Linked DNA regions of Homo sapiens: all the other regions are linked to region 2. The links come from fine-mapping of genetic effects on gene expression. A gene starts in region 2. Each other region holds a variant in brackets. All regions are shown on one strand. Distances are from middle to middle.

Region 1 (8,190 bases), 330 kb after region 2:
TCTTTGTAAATATGCTAAGTTATTCTCCACACTCCCTGCCACCAATGAGCAGACTTAATCGAGATAATATGCAAAATGTTATTTCTCCACTGTTTACACCTCCAAAAGGGGAGCATTATTTTCAAGTCAAGATACCTAGTGTAAAAGTAAGGGTGTTGGAGGATAATCCTGTGATTGCATAGCTTGTTGAGATGCACTGCCCTAGCCCAATTCTCATTTTGATTTATTTAAGTTTGGAAATAACAGTATTAAATTAGCAAAGACAAGCAATGAACAAAGCCCTGGAGATGAATTAGCCATTGTCTCTGGTCCATTAATCTCCTCTTCAATTCTAGAGAATTGTGGCTCACCCAGACCCGAAGATCAAATAAAATGCCTAATTGGGAAAATCCTAAACAAGTGTGTCCTGGGGAGCTTGAATTTATTTGTCACCCGCTCAAACAACTGTGTTGTTTATATAAGTCTTTAAAACCCTGATACTTTTCCGCTACTATGTCTTAATCCCTGGTTCTTTATGCTCAGGAGGGCAATTTAGAGTTGTTTTCAATTAAGTAGAATGGAGAGGGGCACTTATTCCAAAAACAGATAGCTGTGTTGTGAGTATTTTGCCAAACATGCTGAGTGGTTTAGATTTAAGCATCAGGTTGGGAGAAGCTTTGGGATCTCCTTGAAGATAATGATATCTGCTGTTTGGTGCTTTTAATATCAGTAATACATAGTTGAACATAATCACAATTAACGACATAAATGTGGCAAGGAAGGTTGAGATGTTAAGGCTAAACACAAATGTGAAGCAAAGAGCTGAGATAATTATCTAGGATGGCAATCCAGATCATGCAATACTTTCGATTAGAATATGCAGATGATATGCAAATAATTGAGGTCAAAATTTTATTTAACACTGGGCAAAATAGAATGAAAATCAATCCATTGAATTTTGTTCACACAGAGGTGGGACATTTATTTTCATGACCTAAAATGTACCAATACTTTATGTTACATAGAAAAAGTCAGACTAGAAACTGGGTATCAACTTACTAACAGCAAAGTAACTACACACGCTGTTAATATTGACTCTGTCTCAACAATAATTTAAACTGCAGTACTTAGGTTCCATCGTGTTTTACAAAACTCATGTCATTTAATTCTCACAGTGAACCAAGGGAAGATAATGTTATTAACTCAATTTCATAGGTGAACAAATGGCGGCGGCATCTAAAAGTTAGAGATTCACCCAAGATTGGTCAGCTGGTGAGTGGGTGGAACCAAAGTTTGCACTCAAGTCTACCTACTTCTAAAGACTAGGCTTTTGGTACTCAACTGCATGGCTATTAGCACTAAGTTTGCAGAATGACTAGTAGGGTTTGTTGAATGGGTTGTTTAAATAGAATAAAATATAAGTTAAAAAATTGACTAACTCTTAGATGAGACACAAGGGCATTAGATTTCAGAAGTGCATGAAGAAATTTTCTGCTTAGCAATATCTATGCAATGGTGAAAACCCACTTAAAGTCTTCACTGTCTGTTTATTTGGCTAAACTGACTGATGGCAGGGTGTCTACTTTGTACTGTGTTCCTTCAGCCTGGCTCCCTATTTTTTGGTGTGTTAGTATAGTTTGTTTTCAGCTGAAGTTATTAATTGGGGCAAAATATTAACATGCTTGGGAATGTTGCATATGGATTAGGTCAACCTGTTGTTATTCTGACTTAATTTTCTATTATTGATCAGCTATACATTAATTTGTTTTTAAGAAATATTCATTGAGGTAAAACAGTCCATATTTAAGATGAAGAAGAATTTAAAGGAGAAGGGTTATGTGATGATAATTAGCCTGATACTTTAGGCATAACAATTTTAAATTTTGTTTATATTTAGGCTTATTGATAGTTATTAGGTTGGACAATCATATATCAAATGGATTATTTAAATATTTTAATATATAATAATCACACTGTGATTTACCATGTACTTTTCAGTTAAGAGATGTATAGGTACAGTGTTTTACTTGATTTTCAAAATAGTCTTGTGGGTTATGACATTTTTATCATTTTCACTTTACAAATGAAGAAATAAAGACATACAAAAATAAGTGATCAGATTAACTATAGCAGTAAAACAGATACCTGAAGTAAAACCTGGGTAAAAGAACAAAACATTGAGACAGGAGGGATTATACAAATATTAGAGTGAAACACTGAAATATTTTAATTATTCTACTTTACCTTTTATGTGAAATTATAACAACTAGTATGTTTGGAGTGGGCAAATCTAAGCATTCTCAACTCTTAAGGAGGCAAAATTTAGAGAAAGTCAACAATCCTGATAAGGGGCAAAAAAAAAAAATTAAAAAAAGATACTGACAGGTTGAAACTGATGTAAAATTTTTATGTAACTCAAACGTTTCTAGGGCTAATTTCTACAATTTCAAGTACTCAAAGAGAATTTTAAAATTGAGTAGGATTATAATCAGATTTTCTAACCTTAAAAGAGATACTTATTTTCAGTCTAAAATATTTACTCATACATTACTAATCAGTTATATATCAGTGAGCAACAGATCTCTGGAAGACTCTAGGTTTGTGGTCAATAACATTGAATTTAAGAAATCTCCCTCTCTCTCAAAATAGCATAATCTCCATGTTTGTTAATTAATGGAAGGTGATACTGAAGCGTTGTCTATATCTGATATTGGAAGGTGTTAGGATTCTGAAACTGTACTTGTAGCAATGTAGCCAGGCAGTTCAGGCAGATAACATACTGATTGTTTAACCTTTTGCATAGAGAATTAATTATAGCTTGACTTTGCTCATGTTTTGTTCTGGTTGTTTTAACACTGTGTAGCTTCTAATTGCCTTTTTAGAAGCATTCTATAAGAGAAGCAAAATTAATCTCACTGGCTAATAATTCATTTAGCCAGAAGTTAACAAAAATGTATTGATTACTTCCTATGCACCAGAAACTGTTAGAATCTGGACAAAACGTGGGCAAAAATGGACATACTCTCTGTTTTCATAAAATTTAATGTCAAGTGTAAAAGACAGATATTAATCAAGTAATGTGTAACAAATAATATGAAACTACTTTCTTAAAAGTCATGAAAGAGAGGTATATTGTAGTCTGTAACTATGAGAACATATGATTCAGGAAACTAAATTCGTCTGGAGAGTCTG[A/G]TAATGTTTCCTTGCAAAATCAATGAATAAATGAAGAGTGAATATAAGTTAGGTAAAAAGTGAAGGAAAGAGCAGCTGTACAATGGGTACAGTCCATGCAAAAGTCTCATCACAGGAAGAAGCAAGGCATACACAGTGATTGGGGAGGAGAAAGTGAGGAAGAGTATGGTGGATTATGAGACTAGAAAAATGGGTTGGTAACCAACCCTGTAGGAATTTGGCTTATTAATCCCAAATGGTCATTTCTTCATATGTATATATATTCAATACATTGAGAACTTATTATACACAATAGATTTGCTATGAATGATGGTTAATTTAATGGGTCCAGTTGGCTTTGTATGGTGCCCAGATGTTTGGTCAAACATGCTTGTAGATGTTTCTATGAAGGTGTTTTCTTGGATGGGATTAACATTTAAGTTGATGGGCTTTGAGTAAAGCAGATTACCTTCCATAATGTGGCTGCACCTCCTTCCATCAGGTGAAGGACTTAATAGAACAAAGACCATCCTCCACTCATCAAGAAAGACTTATGCCAGGAGACTGCCTCTGAACTCAAACAGTGAGTTTCCCGTGGTCTGTAGCCTGCCAGTCTACTTTGTAAGTTTTGAATTTACCAAGTCTTCAAAGTCATGTGAGCCAATTTTTAAAAGTTACTCTTTCTCTCAGTGTTTCTCTCTGTTCCTCTAGATAGGTAGATAGACAGATAGATAGATAGATAGATAGATAGATAGATAGATAAGAACAGATAGAGAGAGAGAGAGATGATAGAGAGAGAGATCGATCCCATTGGTTCTATTTCTCTAGAGAACCCTAACTAATACACTAGGTTATTATAATGATGGAGGACATACCTATTTGGATACTTAAGGCAGAGTTTAAAACTAATAAGCAGGTAAGAAATACAGTGTGGTAATATGAAACTAAGACAAATAAGTGAGCTAGACAAATCACAGTAAGAGCTATAAGAATGAGAGCATCTGGTGGGCCACAGTGCCTAGGCAGGCTCAAGGAGTTGGTAGGACTTGACAGATGGGACAGGGGAGGGTAGCCCGGTTATGGTATGCAGTAGAGTAGAGGGAGAAGTAAGTGTGGGATGTTTGCAAGCCTCTGAGCAGAACAGCCTGGATAAAGTAGAGTCTTCTGTTAATAAGCCCTCAAGCCTGGCATTCATCCCTCCCTCAAGAGGAGTATCAGAACCCAGAGCTATCTTGTTTTTAGAAGGAAGACACTGTGTGGAGGGAAACTGGATGTGTGGCAACCTCACAGGAAAGGCAAGTTGATAAGATTTTCTTTATGAATTATTCAGAAACAGAAAATTAAGTAACGAGTCCTGTATGATAGTCTAGTTCTATCTGGATTGTTTTCACCTCACAGGGGGATACAAAATAAGATGAGTAGAGCAAAAAGAAAGTAAAATAACCAGTCAGCCAAATATAGCGAGAGAAACAGTGCCTTGGACTCACAGCATGTGGACTCAATGAGAGACGTGCTCCTGAGGGAGCGGTAAAGCAAGCCTTCTGTTCACTGGTGATGCGAACCTACGAGCGCGAACTGCATTGCCAGAGTCCTTTACTGCTCTTTATGCAACTAGGTTAATCCTTTTTGTTGCTTCTTTCTTTCTTTCCGGAAAAGAACTCAGAGAGGATTTTACTGTAGGTAATGTCTGGGAACAGTTCTTTCTTTTATGTGCACTGTGGTGCTTGCTGCTATAAAGCCAGTGACTTAGCCAACTTTGAAGTCATCAGTTCTGATTTGTCACTCAGTAGGTTCAGTTTATGGGGGCAAAGAACCAAGCCATCCCATTCTGGGGAGGTATAGGATGCATTTCTTATGAGCTGCTAAAGGCAGAGGTTCATTTGTTCCATGGTCTCAACTGCTCTAAATAACAGATTAGTGAGATGTTGCACCTGACATTTAACCCTGGGCATTAATTAAAAGTGGCCTGCTGTGATATTTGGGCAGGTGTGGGTAGAAGTAGGCAGTAGTAATACTGCTAGAGAGCAAGCTGTGAAAATCTTTTAACAGCATTTTCACATATTTATGTTGTAGAAATGTATTTTAATGACACTGACATAATTTTAGGGCAAAAGAAATAGCGTATCTCAAAAAATTCAGTTGTATTTTGCATTCAGTTGATGAGGAGGTAAGACACGGTACAGAGTGTTTCACTATTATTCAGCTTAATCACAATGTGTAGTCAATTTACAATATATACCAAGCCCTGTGTTAGGCAGTCTATATGCTTTCTTTTATTGTCATGTTGGAACAACGTGTATTTAACCTTTAGTAAATTTTATTGAGCACTTATTTTGTGCCAGTTGCTGGAGATGTAGCTGTGTACACAATAGATGAGGTTTCTCATGTCAAGGAAGTTAAATTCTGGTCAGCCACAGACAATATTCAAAAGTAGTGTGAACTTTGGGAGGCCTAGGCGGGTGGATCACGAGGTCAGGGGATTGAGACCATCCTGGCCAACATGGTGAAATCCCATCTGTACTAAAAATACAAGAATTAGCTGGGCCTGGTAGTGAGCGCATATAGTCCCAGCTACTCAGGAGGCTGAGGCAGGAGCATCACTTGAACCCGAGAGGTGAAGGTTGCAGTGAGCCAAGATCACGCCATTGCACTCCAGCCTGGGTGACAGAACGAGACTCCATCTCAAAAACAAACAAACAAAAAAATACAAAAAAATTAGCTGGGCCTGGGGGTGTGTGCCTGCAGTCCCAAATACTCAGGAGGTTGAGGTAGGAGAATTGCTTGATCCTGGGAGACGGAGTGCAGCCGAGACCGCGACACTGCACTTCAACCTGCCTGGGCAACAGAGTGAGACTCCCCATCTTGAAAAAAATAAATAAATAAAAATAAAAAAGAAGAGTGGAAGTTCCACAAAGACAGGGGTTTGTGTCTGTTATATCTACGGTTTAACTTCATCAACTAGAACAGTACCTGACAAAAAATATATACAACAACACTGTTTGTTAAATGCCTGGAAGGTAAGAGATGAAGATTAGAGACACTGAATTCTTTGTCCATGGATCCCTATGCCTATAAAATACATAAGCCTTCTAGATATTATTTGTTTTTTCATTTTCTACTTTTACATTTGTTTTCAATTGAGGAAAATTCTAACTTAAAAGCTCAAACCTTTCCCCACATGTTCTCTTGTCTGAATATTGAGGGGATTTTGTTGTTGTTGTTGTCACTCTTGTTAGAGTTGTTATTTTGAGTATAGCTTTCTTACATTTCAATTGAAACCATTATTCACAGAAAGTTAACAAAATGTTGATATCAAAAACAGTTTCTAAAGTACTGCCTATATCACACACATTCTTTTAGGTATAGAAGATACAAAAATGGGCTGGGTGCGGTGGCTCATGCCTGTAATCCCAGCACTTCGCAAGGCCGAGATGGGTGTATCACCTGAGGTCAGGAGTTCAAGACCATCCTGGCCAATATGGTGAAACCCCGTCTCTACTAAAAATACAAAAATTAGCTGGGCGTGGTGGCGAACGCCTGTAGTCCCAGCTACTGGGGAAGTTGAGGCAGGAGAATCGCTTGAACCCAGGAGGCAGAGGTTGCAGTGAGCTGAGATCGTACCACTGCACTCCAGCCTGGGCGACAGAGCAAGACTCTGTCTCGAAAAACAAAAACAACAACAACAAAAAACAAGGCAATAAACAGGTAAACAAATAAGCATGTGATAAGCAACACATTAATAAGTTAAATGAAGAAAACAAAATATGAAAATGTGATAGTGAACAGGGAGAAGTTGATGGTCAGGGAGGGCCTCTCTCTCTAAGTGGTAACATTTGAATTGAGACCTGAATGATGAAAAATACGTAGCTATGAAAGGAAATTATAGAGAATTGTACATGAAGAGAAAATAATGACATATGGGAAAGAGTTTGGCTTCTAAGTTGAAAGAAATATTGCCATTTTGGATAGGACATGGTAACTCAGATGGTATGTGTAGGGAAATAGAGTAAGCAAGGTAGGTGTGAGAGGAGTTTGAATTTTAATTTAATTGCAATAGGAAGGATAGACTTGTCTTTGTCCTGGTGAATGAAAAGATCCAAATTGCACTTGGAAAAAATAACTCTGGATGTCATTGGAATGGACAGAGTGTTGAACATAATGAGAATGACCAGGTGAAAACTTGTTTTTATATTTTGGGCAAGAGTTTATGGTTGAAATAATGAGATATAGTCAGAGAAGCGTTATGTTTTAAAGACAAAAGAGACAGAATTATTGGTGGGTGGGAGAAAAGTAGAGTGTGAAGAAAATAATCAAGGATGATTCTAAGTTTGAATAACTGGTTGAGTAACTGGTTGGGAGGTGACTCAATGGCAGTGAAGAAGACTTGAGAGCAGTGGTATATAAATGTACACAAGGTGGGTGAGAAGAGTAAATACTGTTTGGCTTAGTGTGTTTTCAATGATATTAATGCAAAATGAATATGGTGATATATGGAGATGGGTATGAATCTGGAGCAAAGAGAGATATTAGAGATAAAATTTTCAAAGTCCTCAAAGTGTAGTATTTGAAACCATGAGACTGAATTAGACAACTTAGGAGAAAGTTGTAGGTGGAGAAGAAGGCAGAAAAAGAGATCTCATGGGTGTTTCAATATTTTAAAATCTGGTGCACAGCCAGGTGTGGTGGTGTGCACCTGTAGTCTCAGCTACTAGTGAGGCTGATGTGGGAGGATCACTTGAGCCCAGGAGGTTGAGGCTACAGTGAGTCATAAGGATGCCACTGCACTCCAGCCTGGGTGACAGAATGAGACCCTGTCTATAAACAAATAAAATAAGCAAACAAATAAACAAACAAATAAATACCTGGTGCAAAAGTCAAGAATCTAGCAACTGAAATTGGGAGGTGTCTAGGAATATAAGGTAAAAACCTAACAATATTTAGAAAAAGAAAGTATAATAATAAAAATAGTGCATTAAAGATGTCAGCAGGATTTTTCCATTTTAACTTAAGGAAAAATATGTGGTTAGGTAGGTTAGGGTA
Region 2 (8,190 bases):
TGACAGAAAAGCTAGGAGAAGACGTGAGGCATACTTGTAGGAAACAGGTCTAGGAAAGGTTGGGTAAAAGGGAATATTCTGGAAAAACTGGAAAGGATTCAGAAAAATAGGACTAGGATCACTAACGTTAAATCATTTCCCATGTCCAGGCATTATTTCAAGGGCTTTGTACGCATTAAGTTCGTTTAATACTTTCATCGACCTTAGAAAATACGTGCCTTTATCATCCCCATTTTAAACATAAGAAAACCGAGGCAGAGAGAAGTAATGTAGCTTGCCCAATGATCACATAACTTTCAAAGAATCTCTTCATTTAAAGGCTCAATAAAATGGAAAATGTGGGGTTCATTTAGAGTTGGAAAGAGGAGTAATGAGGATAAGGATGGGATATGAGTTCATATTAGTGAATTTATAGCGATGTTTTTGAGGTTTTAAATTCCAAAAGCTTTTGTATAATTTTAGAAAGCATTTCTTAAACTCTGATCTCTCTTTAATCTACCCCAACAAAGAAATAATCAGACTGTACTAGAAAATAAGTCATAAAAACATATGCATCAATAAATTCTTTTGTTTGGGTGAAAAGCAGTCCCAAGCTTGAGAGTATGTAGCTTTTCTATCGTAGTTGTAATATTTTTTTTTTTACTCAACCCTGTCTGTTCTCTCCAACTTGTCCTAACAACCAATATACTTCTAGCTATAATAATAATAAAAAAGGACATTAGAATAGTAACAGAAAAATAACACAAGACTTTAGGGGCTGGTAATAGAAGATAATTCCTCAGACACTATAAACTCCTTGCTTACTTGGTTTGTAACCAGGGAACTTTTTATAGTTAATAACCATCATTTTTTTTTTTAACTCCTCTTGCAAGAGCAAATTCAATCCAATTCTTCACTGGGACATAGTAAACAAAAAATGCGAAGGCATTTGAAAAAGTTCACCCATTTAGATTTAATTACATACATAACTGGCGTCCTCCCAAGTGTGAAAACGCTGTAACCAATAAATTAAACAATAAAATGCTATCTGAGCAGAACAGATTTATATAGAAGATGCACGAGAAATCAAAATTCACTGACTTGTTTGGAGTATTTTTACCCAGAAAAGTTCTTAAACACAGAGCAAAACGCCTGCTCTTTGAGTCTTGCCTTCTTTTGGACACTTAGGTCAGTCACTTTCCCTAGAGGGGAGTTGTTGCACAGTGACTTCGAAGTGAATAGGTTTCAATCTCAAAATCATCTCTCTGTGTTAAGGGTTCATTAGGTCTGTGCTTGTATGTTAGATTTTTAGGACCATCTCATTTGTCTAGTACCGCTTCTTACATGCTTAGTTAATGACTACTAAGTGAAGCTTAATTTAGCAGGAAGGTTATTTACATTAGAGCTTCCTTGAAATACACACACAAGGAAGACTTTGCAAACTTCTGCAAAGCCAAAGGAGTGGGGAGACAGGGGCATCCAGACTACCAAAATATCTTCCTAGGTAGTATTATTAAAAAAAAAATCCCATTAATAATAGTAATACAATAATCTGAGCATTGTCGACAATTTTGAGCTTCATGAAATGTATTTTTAAATGTACCCACTTTCAATTGAAATTTCTTGTGAATGACAAACTTGGAATAAGAAAATGAGGGAGACTGGACTCTTGCAACCTTTTGGACATACCTTTGCCAAATGTAAATTGTTTGACGGTATGGATTTACTGCATTTTTCATGCTACCATTTGTAGTAAAACTAAATGGAAAAAATCTTTCCTCTTTAACAAAACCTCGTGATAACAATACCTTAAAATACACTTCATAGCTGCTGGTCAACCATGTTAAAGGCACAATCTGATCTCTGCTGCTACTTTCCTGAGGAAAAGAGCCAATCAGCTGAGCAACTTCCTCATTTGTTGTGCTTTATGAAAATGAAAATGCAACAGACCTTGGGATTTCAAAGCCATCCATGGTTACAAGTGAGGAAATAAATATATAACAGTGGGGACTTTTACTTTATCATTAAATTATAATGCCCTTTGTTTTTCTGTTGGCTAATTCAGACAGCAAAATGGCTCTCTCTTGATTTGCAAGAGTTAATTTCTTACCATACTTTCTGCATCACACCATAAAGATAACTTCAAGTAATTTTGGTTAGATTGTGTTTTATTCATTTGTTTGTTTTGGAGTTCTAGGATCTGACAGGAAAGCAGTGTGAAACAGGCAAAGTTCAGAGTTACTCTCAGAACGACTCAAGCAGGATCCATTTCCTAGTTCCCCCCAGCTGCGGATTTTAAAGTCTGGATCTAGCTCCTGCTCTTGTTTCTCTAAATATTTATCAGTTAACAATTACACATCTGCTCCAATGGCAACAAACTTGGCTGAAGAAATAATGCTTTTCTTCCTCCCACCAAAATATGCAAAATAATGCAAGTCCATCTGAAGATTTTCGAATCCAATTATCAGACTTAAGTCCCCCTATTTTAACACTCATTTTATTAAACATATTGGAAAGTTATGTTATTTCAGTATGCTCTCTTTCTCCTTGTTTGCTTTCTATTGTTCCTACTCGTTTGGTTCTTTCCAGTAAGCTTCTCTAGTGAGTATTTTGCTCTCTTATCATACATGCCGGCTATAGTGAAGTTAATAGAAGTGCTTAGTAAAGTCCTCTGAATCCTGGTATAAGAATCCTTTCACACAGAAGAGAATTCCTTTCGCTTGGAAATATTTTAAGAAATAAATTTATGAAAGATTGTCTGATATGATTTAGATCATATTTGATCAGGACACTAAACTGAGACCTGCATTTTGCATGCCTTTTATTTTTATATTTGCAAAGGGCTCTTTACACAAGTTTACTTAAATTGACCTTTAATGCTTTACATAAATGCAGTTTTTGCAAACCCGAGTCAAAGCAGAAAATAGAAGTTTTACTCACCTTAGTATATTGAATCTTCAAATCGGTGAGTAGGACAGGTAAGTCTGGCGTGCCTGAGGATGACATTTCTGATTCGGCTCCTGGAACACAGGTGACTGGCTCAGCAATTTGGTTCTGATAGAGCACTTGGCTTTATTTGTTCCTTTTTTATCTGCACGGGCTAAAGTTTATTTGCATACTCGGATACGATTGGATGAACAAACTCAGAGCAAAAAAAGAAAACGACACTACTTATTTGTAACACCTAGGGCAGGAAGCCTTTGACTTTAAACTTAAATCCTTAAGAAACCAGTGCTCCAGCATCGAATTTGTACCTGGAGACAGTGCACTATTTGCAGATGAATTAATTTACAAAGCCGAAACCTGTGATAAGTGTATGCAGCAGCTGCTCTGGCCACTAAGGCCAGTTATTATTTTTTTGACTTCTCATGCTTTTTAATGCTACTATGTAACTTTCTGTTCTCTGACAGACTTGGAATCAGAGAATTTGAGGATTGAAAAGAGTCTAAAAGGGCACTTGTTCTCAGTAGAAGCTGGCCAGGTGTCTTCAGGACAAGGCTTTCAGGAAATCAGTCCATCTCCCAGAAAATCAAGGTGCTGTTTGGGGAAGAAAGGCCCTTTATCTACACCCTACCCTAAGTTAGTTTTAAAATATCGTATCAGTCTTGTGTATTTTCAGTGCTGGGTAAGTAGACCTACTGTGATCTCAGAAGCCCTAAATTATCTTTATTTTCTATATGTGAACAGAAAAGCCAGCAGGACTTTTAGGGAATTCGGAACACACTGTCACACACAATCACCACAATTAGAAATATGGCAATATCATCTATTAATACTCATTTAAAATGAAAGTAATCCTGGTTTTGGAAGTTGTCTGTATTTATCAACATAGGCAGTGTACAAAGACTAAATTTAAGCAGGGCTTCCAAACAATTCAAGTTCTTAAATTAATATTTAGCTGAAGGACAATTTTTTAAACAGTGTTACTCCCATTTTAAGTACAATACTTTATTGTATTGTAGCTCTAGCAAACGTTACAATAGGAACAAGATAAAATACTCTGGATGCTCTGATTGTGGAGAATCAACCAATTTTTTTTTTTCTAGTGAAACTTGCCAATTCCCCTGAATATGGGACTTACATAGGGAAACTAAAAATTTCTGAATTGTTTGCCCAAATCAGGTGCAGCACTTGTTTCCCTTTCTACCCTCATTTCATATCCCCATTTTAGAGACATACAGAGGGTGAGTAGCTTACTTATGGTCACAGATCTATTAGTGCAGGACCAGAATTTCATTTCAGGCCAGTCTGACTCCCAAACCTGGACTCTTATTTCTGTTTACTATTTCTACCCTATTCTCCACAAGAGAACTCCTACATGGGTTCAAGCATCAACTGCTTTGGTTTTCTCAGTGAATAGTCACCCTTACAGGCATTTAAACATAACTTTTTATTCATCTAAGACAAGAATTTGCAAAACTTTTTCTGTAAATATTTTCAGCCTCTGGGCTGGATGGTTTCTGATATAATTTACTTGACTCTATTTAAAAGAAACTGTAGATGATAGGTAAATTAATGGGTGTAGTTGTTTTCCTATAGAACTTTATTTAAAAAGACAGAAGGCAGGCCAGATTTGGTGCACGGGCCAACTCCCTAGATTCTAAGGCAATATCATTCCCAATGCCTTTGACTCCCCCGTGTCTTATGTTTGATGACCAGATAGAAACTTCTGTGTTCTTTCAACATTTCTCTGTTTCTTTCTTTTTGGAAAGTCTAATTGTTTTCTCTCTCAAAAATGTGTTTTGAGTTAAATGCACAATTACACAACAGCTGTTACATAACTTGAGAGTGGCGCTCTGGCCATGCCCAAACAGCTGTGTTTTGCTGCTTTCTTCTCCCAGAGTCACAGTTGTTTGTGGATTCAAATACTGGTTTATTTGATGTCCAGGCGATGAAAGCTCAAGGCTTCATAACATACTTGGCTTGTCATCTCACTTCTTATATGATCATTCTCAATTGTATTTTATTGGATAATTATGTAAGAACAGTCCCTTTATACCAGGCATTCCTGAATGTAGGCAAAAGGAGTTGCTTTGGAGACAGGTTACCACACCTGCCCATTTAATTTCAGCAAATATTTACTAAGTATCATTTATGCATCCATAATTCTTTAGCCCTAACCTCACTTAAGCAGATCTTTTCTGCCTAGAAACCACAGGGCCTGAGACCTATATTTTTGAGGTAAACATCATCCTGCCCTGAGAGCTTATTTTGTAGAATAGCATATTTCTGGGAATTGCTGCATATGAGGAAAAGATTTCATCAGACTACTTCTATTCCTTACAGAGGAAATAATGGCTTTTGTGAGAACCTAGGGACCAAGGTTGCACATTTTAGAACTGGACCCAGGATTGTACGTTTTTATGGTATGCCAGGACTATGCAGCAGAGGAGGAGCTGTCCCTTTAACTTGAGAGTAATCGACAAATGATGTTTCATCTTCTTTTTCCTCCTTATGAACAAACTAAATCACACACACACACACACACAGGCACACACACATATGGAGAGAGAAGCAAGAAACATAAGAGGATAGTTTATTCATCTCTTGAATTTGACTTCTCCAGCCATTTGTGAAAGCTTTCATTATACCAAGAAACATATAGATTATGACTTCAACCATTCTTGAAACTACTCTTTCATTTTACAACAAACATCTCCAGAACTCCGTCCAATCCTCAGTTCCTGAAAAGATAAAAGGAACCTAATCTGCCACCCAGGACTTAAAATTTTTAAAAAAATGTTGAAAAAAGTCATATGATGAATTAAAAATAGCTTCTGCAATGGACTGAATTTTTTTTGTCCAGTCACAATGGATATGTTGAAATCCTAACCCCCCATGTGATGGTATTAGGAGATGGAGCCTTTGGGAGGTGTATTAGTCCATTCCCATGCTACTAATAAAGACATACTTGAGACTGGGTAATTTATAAAGGAAAGAGGTTTAATTGACTCACAGTTCAGCATGGCTGGGGAGGCCTTAGGAAACTTACAATCACAGTGGAAGGGGAAGCAAACACGTCCTTCTTCACATGGTGGCAGCAAGGAGAAGTGCTCAGCAAAAGGGGGAAAACCCCCTTATAAAACCATCAGATCTCATGAGAATTCACTTATTATCATGAGAACAGGATGACGGTAACCCCCCTCCATGATTAAAGTACATCCCACCGGATCCCTCCCATGACATGTGGGGATTATGGGAACTACAATTCAAGGTGAGATTTGGGTGGGAACACAGAGCCAAATCATATTAGGAGGTAATGAGGTTATGAGGGTAGGACCCTCATGAATGGATCAGTGCTTTTATAAAAGGGACTCCAGAGAGATCTCTCGCTGTTTCTGCCATGTGTGGATGCAATGAGACATTGGCAATCTGTAACCCAAAAGAGGGCTCTCACCAGAACCCAACTATGTTGGCACCCTAATTTCAGACTTCAAGCTTCCAGAACTGTGAGAAATTAATTTTTGTTATAGCAGCCTGAATGAACTAAGACAGTTTCTTTTCATATTTCCTGATTTCAAGATGCTGGAACCATTTATTGAAGATGAACCTCTCCTACTCCAGTTACATGACCACTCCCCTAACTATTCTCTGTTGCCTTAGCATGTCTGCCTGTTGGTAAACCTAGCAAGAAATCTATCCCTATGCTTTTGATTACTACATTTTTATCAGATACCACATTGCTCTTATGCTTATTTGAGTTTTAATAATTTGGGAAAAGTGGATCTTGTATGTAGTGAGAGAGTCTGTACTTAGTTGACAAGTTGATGTTAAAAATGGAAGTGGAAGGCAGAATTCAAGTATATGAACATATGTATTTGTTGACTAATTTCTGTTCACATGCCATTCTTCTTCAATTGGAAAAATTTCCTCACCTCTGATTTCTCCTGCTCTTTACATATCTTTTCATTGTTCTTCTCTTTGGCTTGTGTTACTGAGATAGGATAGATGCCCCTCTAATCTGGTCTAACCAGGACACTAACTGATTAGTAAGGTCACTAAAAGAAACAGTACATTAAAGCCTCTGTAAGATAATTATTTGAGTTTAAATAGGTTTTTGCTAAACCTTATGGGTTGAGGCCATTTCTTGGAACTGGATTTGCTGCTTGGAATTTGAAATAATCTTGCATAAATAGTACTCATAGTGTTTTGTCTAGTTTCCAGTTTGCTTCCTTAATGTGTAGAAAGAAAGACATGAAAGACATCAATGAGTCAATCAAAATGTAGACTACTTTGAGATTTCCACAATTTTTTCTTTTTTTTTTTTTTATAATTCTCATGCAGATTATCCAACAATGTGTTTAGAAATTTGATGATATTGTTTGTAATATATTCAGTTTAATTTTCATATAAACAACTTTTCTTACCACCCCTGCCCTGGCAATGAATCAATATTTTGAAGCTATTGAAGGGGACCAGAAGACAAATAATTAAAGAATAAAGCTCTATAAACTGGAAAACATAAGACAATGGATTCTTTCCTAGAATCTCTGGAGAGAGCCTGACCTGTCCACTCCTTTGATATTGGCCAGTGAAACTGATTTCAGATCTCTGGCTTCTAAAAGTGTTGTTTTAAACCGCCAAGTTTATAACTGTTACAGCAGCCATTGGAAACTAATGCACTAATCAATAAAAGTTCAAGTTCATAGGTGTCAAAATGTATATGTTGTCATTGATCATGCACCCGTCATTCTTTGTGTCATTCAGGTTTATTGTTACTATCTAAATATTCTAATTTAAATAAAGGTAAGCTTTCTATCTGTACCTTACAATGAAAAACTCATCAGGTGTTTTATATATTTTATATACATATATATTTATGTATATATATGTATGTGTATATATAGAGAGAGTAAAGATGAGAAAGAGGTTTATTTGGCTCATGTTTCTGTAGGCTGTACAAGCATGGCACCAGCATCTGCTCAGCTTCTGGTGAAGCCTCCGGAAGCTTTTACTCATGGCAGAAGGCAAAGGGGGAGCATATATGTCACATGGAGAGAGAGGGAGCAAGAGAGAGGGGGAAATGTGTCAGGCTCTTCTTATAACCAGCTCTCCTGTAAATTTATTACCGTGGGGAGAGCACCAAGTCATTCATGAGAGATCCACCTGCATGACACAAACACCTCCCACTAGACCCCACCTTCAGCACTGGAGATTACATTTCAACATAAGATTTGTGGGGGAAAAACATCCAAAATATATTATTCTGCC
Region 3 (8,190 bases), 54 kb after region 2:
GTCCCTACACCCAGAGAGAAGGAATCCCTGCATTAGTAAGTCAAGGGGCAAGTTGTCCTTGGGACTAAGGAAAATGTTTTTCCCTCCTAGACCACGATCTGGGTAGCAGAAGCCTGAATTCCCTGTCCAAATAGCTCTGAGCCCCTTTCCAGTGCTTAAAGAGTTGACTTAGTCAAATGTAATTCTCTTTGTTCCTCTATAGGTAAGGTGTTCTTTCCATCTGGCTTCTTTCAAGATTTTTCCCTTGCCTTTGATTTTGTTGTTTGAATATGGTATATCTAGGTGTAGGGTTTTGGGAATTTATTCTGCTCGTTATTCCCCGAGTTTCCTAGATCTTTGGTTTGGTTTGGTGTCTGAGATTAATTTGGGGAAATTTTCAGTCATTATTGTTTCAAATATTTTTTCTTCTTTCAGTTTTTTTCCATTATGTATATGTTATACCTTCTGAACTGTCCCACAGTTCTTCGATATTCTGTTCTGTGTTTTTCAATCTTTCTTCTGTTTGCTTTTCAGTTTGGAAGTTTCTATTGTTATATCCAGAAGCTCAGTGATTCTTTCTTCAGCTGTGTCCAATCTACTAATAAGCCCATCAAAGGAATTCATTTGTTTCATTGTTCTTGATCTAAGGCATATCTTTTTGATGCTTTCTTAGAATTTGCATCTTTCTGCTTACATTATCTATCTGTTTTTGAAGCTTGTTCATTGTTTCTTTCTTTTTTTTTTTTTTTGAGACAGAGTCTGGTTCTGTCGCCCAGGCTGGAGTGCAGTGGTGCCATCTTGGCTCACTGCAAGCTCCGCCTCCCGGGTTCACACCATTCTCCTGCTTCAGCCTCCCGAGTAGCTGGGACTACAGGCGCCCGCCACCACGCCTGGCTAATTTTTTGTATTTTTTGTAGAGACGGGGTTTCACCGTGTTAGCCAGGATGGTCTCGATCTCCTGACCTCGTGATCCGCCTGCCTCGGCCTCCCAAAGTGCTGGGATTACAGGCGTGAGCCACCGCGCCCGGCCGGTTGTACATTGTTTCTATTAAGTCTCTGCCCTATTTTGAATGTTCCCTCCAAAACTCATGTTGAAACATAATCCCCAATGTGGCAGTATTGAAAGGTGGGACCTTTAAGAGGTGATTGGATCATGAGTGCATTAATCCACTCATGGATTAATGCATTAATGAGTTAATGGATTAATGGTTTGTCCTCGGAGGGTAACTGTTGGCTTTATAAGAACAGGAAGAGAGACCTGTGCTAGCATGTTGGCATGCTTAGCCCCCTCACCACATGATGTTCTGAACTACCTCAGGGTGCTGCAGTGTCCCCACTAAAAAGAATGGTCTCACCAGATGCAATCCCTGAGCAAATTGTTAACTATTCAATAATTTAAGAATAGGAAAGCTTTTTTTTTTCTATAAGAAAGAAATTCCCTTTCTTTATAAATTACCCAATTTTAGATATTCTGTTATAAGCAAAATAATGTATATAAATTGCATTCTGAAACTTATTGCAAGTCAAATTAAATCACTTTTGTTAAAAGTCTAAAGGATCTAGCAAATTGTGTGTTTCAAAAGGAAAAATAAACGTTCTTCTTACTGCTTTATGTATTCTAAATATATGTTCTAAATACCACATAAAGATAAAATTCCAGCTGGGTGCGGTGGCTTATGCCTGTAATCCCAGCACTTTAGGAGGCCAAGGTGGGTGGATCACCTGAGGTCAGGAGTTCGAGACCAGCCTGACCAAATATGGTGAAACCCGTCTCTACTAAAATTACAAAAATTAGCCAGGAGTGGTGGCGTGCACCTGTAGTCCCAGCTACTCAGGAGGCTGAGGCAGGAGAATCGTTTGAACCTGGGAGGCGGAGGTTGGAGTGAGCAGAGATGGCACCACTCCACTCCAGCCTGGGTGACAGAGCAAGATTCCATCTCAAAAATAGAATAAAATAAAATAATAATACAAAAAGACAAATGTTTATTATGGGATTTAGAGAAAGTGCCTTATAACCTTCAGTTTATTATAGTATATTCATATAGTAAGTATCTTCTCTTATTTTCTAATTTTCATAGAGCTGAAAATATAATGTGATCAATTAAATATTCATTGCCAATAATAAACCCATTGGAAAATCTACCTGCTCAGACTTCTGGTTTCTGGTTCAGCATGCAAGGAGCTTACCATGCTCATGTTTGCCTGTCTGAGTGTGTGTGTGGTAATATTCTATTGTTACATTCATTTGTTTACATTCTGTTAGTGAAGTTGAGCATCTTATTAATGTTGTTAGCCATCCATAATTCCTCTTCTGTGAAATGCACCACCTCCTCTTCTTTTCAGTCCAGGATCAAAGCTACTTTTCTTTTCAAGGTCGGAGATCAACATAGCAGTAGCATGTTGTTACTACTTTATTGTAACAACAAGTAACAAGCTGGACAAACTTAAAAATCAACTCTTCCAAATCCATTAGAGAGGTGAGGTCATAGGAAAAACTGCTACTCCAAAATTTTAGAGACAGGCAGATATAGAGAATTACAACTTACTGTACCAGAAACCTGCATGGGAATCAATTCCAGGCTAGGAAAATCTAAGTTGTAATTAACAAATTGTTGGAGTCTCAATGCGAACAAGTCTGAGAGCTAAAAAATGCAGGGGTACTAAGTCATAGGGGGAGGCCCACACTCCATTGATTGTATGATTATATAAACAATGCATAATCTTTGTAAAACTTCAAAGAATACACCAAATTATAGGGAAGGATGAAAAAAGTCCTTCGAAATCCTGCTACTCTTACATATACTGATTTGTAGTATTTTGGTTAAATTCATTTATGTATTTTTATGTAATATCACACTTATGTATAAAACAGCATAAATGGAAAAATATCTTACATACTGGGACACATATTTAATAAATACAGTTGTTTTTTGTGAACTGACATATCTTCTCCCTGTACTCCATCCTACCCTCCCCACCTGGTCCCCCACTCACCGATTATGCAACCAAAAGTTAACTATCTGGTATATGTGTTTCTGTAACTTTCTCCATTATTTTAGATTCATATACACATACATACAAATATGCGTGGTACATATGAAACACATTTTGCCACTTTGTTTTACATAAATAGAATATTGTATTTATTTCTCCGTACTTGCTTTTTTCCTTTGGTGTTTATCAAGAACATATTTCCAGGGAAATATATATAGATCTGGGTCATTCTTTTTAATGACTAGGTAATAATGTATGAAATTACCCCAGTATATTAAATTATGCCTCATTGTGTAGACCTTTAATTTGTTTCCAAAATTGTCAAATATCTCTTTGTCACTATATCCTTATGCATTGAAACTTTTATTTTTATGGTATAGAAAACTAAGAGTGGGGTTACTGAATACGAGGCTATGTGGATTATTAATTTTAACACATAGCACCAGAATGTTTTTCTAAAAGGCTATATCTGTTTGTACTTCCACCAGTGATAGATGAGAGTTTCCTTCCTCTCTTGTTACCATGCTCATGTTTGCCTGTCTGAGTGTGTGTGTGGTGATATTCTATTGTTACATTCATTTGTTTACATTCTGTTAGTGAAGTTGAGCATCTTATTAATGTTGTTAGCCATCCATAATTCCTTTTGCGTGAAATGCACCACTTTCTCTTCTTTTCAGTCCTGGATCAAAGCTACTTTTCAAGGTCTGAGATCAACATAGCAATAGCATGGAAAATTACAGTGCTCTCTGTGTGGCAGCATTTTGAGGAAAATACAAGCACTATACGTAAAATAGTGGTTTACTCACAAAACTCCAGGACCATTCTCTGAATTGATTTGAAGCTGGTTAACAAATGTAAAATAACCATTTTCCTGGAGTGAAAACTAAGGAGTTAATCACTTTAAGCCCCTGACAAACACTAATCAATTTTCTGTGTCTGTATACTTGCCTATTCGGAACATTTCATATATAAAGGAAATCATACAACATGTTACTTTTTGTGTTTGGTTTCTTCCACATGATAATTTCAAGATTCGTCCATTTTTTAGCATGTATAAATTCTTCACTTTTTTGTTGCTGAATTATATTTCCTTGTATGGCTATACCACATTTGTTTATTTGGTTGCTTTTGGGTTTATTTAGTTGGTAGGCTTTTGGGTCAATCTAATGTGTGTTCAAATCCAAGTTTTAACATTCCTTTATGAAGATGGGTATGTTAAAAGAAAAAAGTTTAAATTCAATTTTATCAGCCTCAATACACTGAATTTTATATATATATATATATGATTGAATATTATATATCCAATATACTGGAATACACACACACACACACAAGACCTCACAGGGTTTGTGAAGATTAAGTAAAACAATATATGTAAAATACAGTATCTGGCCCTTGTAATAAGTACTCATATCAGTCAGGAAATCAGAAACCACA[A/C]TAATTATAACAGAAAGAAGTTAGTATGATGAATAGCTAAAGTAGTAAAAAAGGAACATGAAGGGAACAGAGAAATTAACTGCAGGAAGTAGCTTTGCCAGTAGGCTGAGGGAAACAAGAAGGTGTTGGGATGGGTTATCAGAGCCCAGATGCTGGGAGGGGGTCCCAAGAGCTGAGATCCACACAGCTCAGGGGAAGAATCTGCTTGTCTTACTCTGTTGTCTTTTAAGATGTTTTTGCTGCTGCTAGGGAAAAGGATCTGAGTAGGGAAATGCTGAAGGAACAGTAAGCAAGTAGGGTGGAGTCTGCTTTCTTCCCTTCTGCCTTCCGTTCTCCCGCCAGTGCATTCTACTAACAGAACCTAGAAAGACACAATCTGGCAAGGGAGAAAAGTAGATAGCAGAGTCTCCGCTGAGCATAGAATGAAGAGTTTGGAACTGAGAAAAGCTAGTTTAATAAACTGGCATAGTCTACCCCTTTGACCATTCTACATCTATACACCTTTCTATGAATTTTTGAATTTCCATAAAGCAAAAGCTATGCTATTGTCTAGAAAGATGAAGGAACTATCCATCCTTTGCTCTCTCCTCTCTCTAAAAGAGAAAGCCATGAAGTCCCAACCATAGTAACAATTTCCAGAAAGAGTCACGGTATCAATTTCTGACTGATGTTGATTGCTCCTCAAATTCTGTCACAGTCCCACCTGGAAATTGGTAATATAAAGTCTGAAGTGTAAAACACCATGATCCAATAAGCTCTATGTAAAATAAGGAGAGAAAAAGAGAAAGAAAATAAATATAAATTAGCTAATATGCATTACTATGAATATACCTATAAGTAACAAGAAAGGAAGAAAGCTTATATCACTGCTCTTGTCCTCATTTCTGAAACTAATCACGAGAGCATGGTTAACGTTTCTAACTTTTGTCTTTTCATGTCTATTCCATGTCCCCCTTGTCCTCAGCTAACTAGATTTCTGTACTAGTGGGCTTATCTGAATTTTTGTTTCTGAAGGATGTGAATCCTCAGTAATGGGCCTTTGTGTAGTTGCTTAGTATTCTAAGTGCAGTGGCATGATCTTGGCTCACTGCAGCCTCGACCTCCAGGGCTCAAGCAATCCTCTCACCTCAGCCTCGAGTAGTTGGGACTACAGGTGCATGCCACTATGCCCAGCTAAGTTTTGTGTTTTTGTTGTTGTTGTTGTTTTGTTTTTGGTAGAAGCAGGGTTTCGCCATGTTGTTAAGACTGGTCTTGAACTCCTGAGCTCAAGTGATACACTCACCTTGGCCTCCCAAAGTGCTGGGATTACAGGTGTGAGTCACTGTGCCTGGCCTGGACATAAAGTGTTAATAGGTGCTCAGAGAATCCAGTCATTGTGCTCTCTGCCTCCCTCACTGTTTGGAAGCTGCTCAGGTTCCCTTTGGTAATGAACATCAATTGCTCTTCTCCATACAACAACCTCCTTCAAGTGTTGGCTCAATGGCATGAGCCCCAGGTGTCCAGGCTACAGTTTTAACTTCCAGTTTAATGGAGTTTTTGGTGTCTATGTGTACATTCCTCCCTTGGGATCTAACCATCTGTAAACTAAGTTCAAGGTTTTCTTTCTCAGTTATAAGGAATTCCCTTGGATTGAGTGAGAGAAGACAATGAAGATGGAGTAGGTCTCAAAGGACGTGAAGGACAAATTGAGGCATTGAACCACCTTCTCATGTACATCTCTTAAAAGCATGTCCACTTGATGATTAATTGCTTGCTAAACTTATGGCTTGGTGGACCATATAACACCCAGTTTATGAGGGGCAGTTCAGATTGCACAGTTATTTTGATGTTCCTTGGTCAAGCTTTCAGGCTCTACAAAGATCAAAAGCATTCCAGTAACTGTTTCTCAAAAAAAGAAGCAAATATGTTGAAGACATAGATTTGCTCCCAAACCCCCCTAGAGGTCTGCATTGTAATCCTCCTATCAGGGCTTGCCAGAGACTCCATGTGGTGCCTCTGTATACCACAGACACTTAAGATCTTAGGAACAGCTGCTGATCTTCAAGGGGAAGTGTAGCTCACACTACAGTCTGGACTTGCTGCAGAGCCTTCGCTTGCTCTGGTCTCCACTCAAATTTGGCAGTTTTAGATGTGACTCAATAAATGGAAATGGTAGCTGGGAATCAGATCTCTGAAGAAAGGGTACTTGCCTGCTTCATGCTAGTACTACCAATGGGGTATGGGAAGGCTTGCTCTGGGAGTGCTGAAGGAAGCCGGGGCACTGCTGGGACAAAACCTACAGAAACAACAAGCAAATAGGAAGACCATGTTCCTTCTCTTATTTCTGCCTTTAAATTTCCGTTAGCTCCTTCATTGGTAGGCTTTAACAGGAAAGCAGCTAGGAGGGGGTAAGATTATTTGCAGAGTTGCAACCTCAGTATCAGAAAACTAAGCCAGAAGGGTAAGATAGGACATGACACGGAGTAGCTTAATAATCAGCACAGAATGAAACTAATCATCGATTTACTCTACTGCACAACATTTATAAAAGAATCTTAAACTGGCTTATTTTTAATATTACAGAAGTTGTGTGTATTTATTGTGGAAAATTTATAAAAAAGAATAAAATAAAATTATTCATGATCACAGTATTTATAAATTTTGCTTCTACTGCCCTTGTTATACATACACTGACACATTTGAAATGTTTTAAATGTTTTCAATAACTTGCATTAATAAATAATACTGTGCTAAATACTTTTGTTGAAAATTGTTTGCAGTTATTGTTATGCCAAATTGTGAAGAAATGTCCACTCTACCCTTATTATATTGTGTTTGAATCTTAGACATATTTACTCTCTATATAAATTATTTTAAGAGAAGTATTGGCCACATTAAAAAAATCAATTTCTTGAATAAAAGTTTGGATGCAAACTTCCTCTTTCTCTCTCCCTTCCTGTCTGTTTCCCTCCCTTCCTTCTTGTCTTTCTCCTCCCTCCCTTCCTTCTTTCCTTTATTCCTTCCTTCTTTTATCATGTTATGGTGTGAATATGAAGACATTACTCGGATTATTGCACATTCCTTTCTGGAGAAGAAATTATAACTAAAAATGCATATGAAGAGAGAGTTTTTGAATGTGGGTAGTGATGAGAACAGCTGGGATGTAGACTGGAGGAAATGGCAAGGACATTCAACATAGATATAAATGGAATTGCTTAGCAGAAAAACTTGGAATTTCTTATGCTGGAGCATAAATTTGAATCAAATATATATATACACACATATATTCTTTCTTATAAATATAAAATGCTAAATCTTAAAGCCATCTGTGCTCTTTCTGCAAGTTTGAAACTTGAATTTAGGTAAGTCAAATTGAAAAAGTCTAGGGATGCTGTTGTGTTGCCAAGCAACATTACTAATCTAAGATCTCATAATCACGTGCCATGAAAAATTTGGACACAATAAATGTGTTCCCAGAGCAAGTGAGTCAGCATCAGCTATTTCAGGAAGAATTTGTAGGGAGCCCAAAAAGTCTCTCATGAGGATGAAATTATCTTCAGGCTATTTTGCCTTTCTTTTGCAATGCAAACACTTACACCTCAACTCAGTGGTCCCCAAATCAGACACAGTGAAGGAGATAAAACGTATCCTACTCCATCCTATGAAGGTCCACACATTGAAATGAGAGGATCCCCTCCATATGCAGAGACTAGAAACCCATGCCCTTATTCAGAGGATGGAAGCCCATGGCTAGAATCAACTAACTGGGAAGTGGGTGTCCCATCTGGATCACCATATCAG

Evidence for each region. PIP is the estimated chance that this variant, and not a neighbour inherited with it, causes the effect.
Region 1: its variant is fine-mapped to the expression of ALDH1A1 in whole blood (INTERVAL, PIP 0.91).
Region 3: its variant is fine-mapped to the expression of ALDH1A1 in whole blood (INTERVAL, PIP 0.92).

Annotation. Positions count from the first base shown.
Region 1 is chr9:73,279,885-73,288,074 of GRCh38, forward strand. All of the region lies in intron 1 of LOC101927281 (a long non-coding RNA gene), which reads left to right. Among named protein-coding and RNA genes, the nearest start is that of ANXA1, 130 kb to the left of the region's middle. The variant A/G (reference allele first, on the strand shown) is at 3,172.
Region 2 is chr9:72,950,016-72,958,205 of GRCh38, forward strand. It overlaps ALDH1A1 (aldehyde dehydrogenase 1 family member A1), which reads right to left and starts at 3,038. Exons shown (of 13, transcript NM_000689.5): 1 at 2,920-3,038. The coding sequence starts at 2,985.
Region 3 is chr9:73,003,688-73,011,877 of GRCh38, forward strand. No RefSeq gene overlaps it. Among named protein-coding and RNA genes, the nearest start is that of ALDH1A1, 55 kb to the left of the region's middle. The variant A/C (reference allele first, on the strand shown) is at 4,411.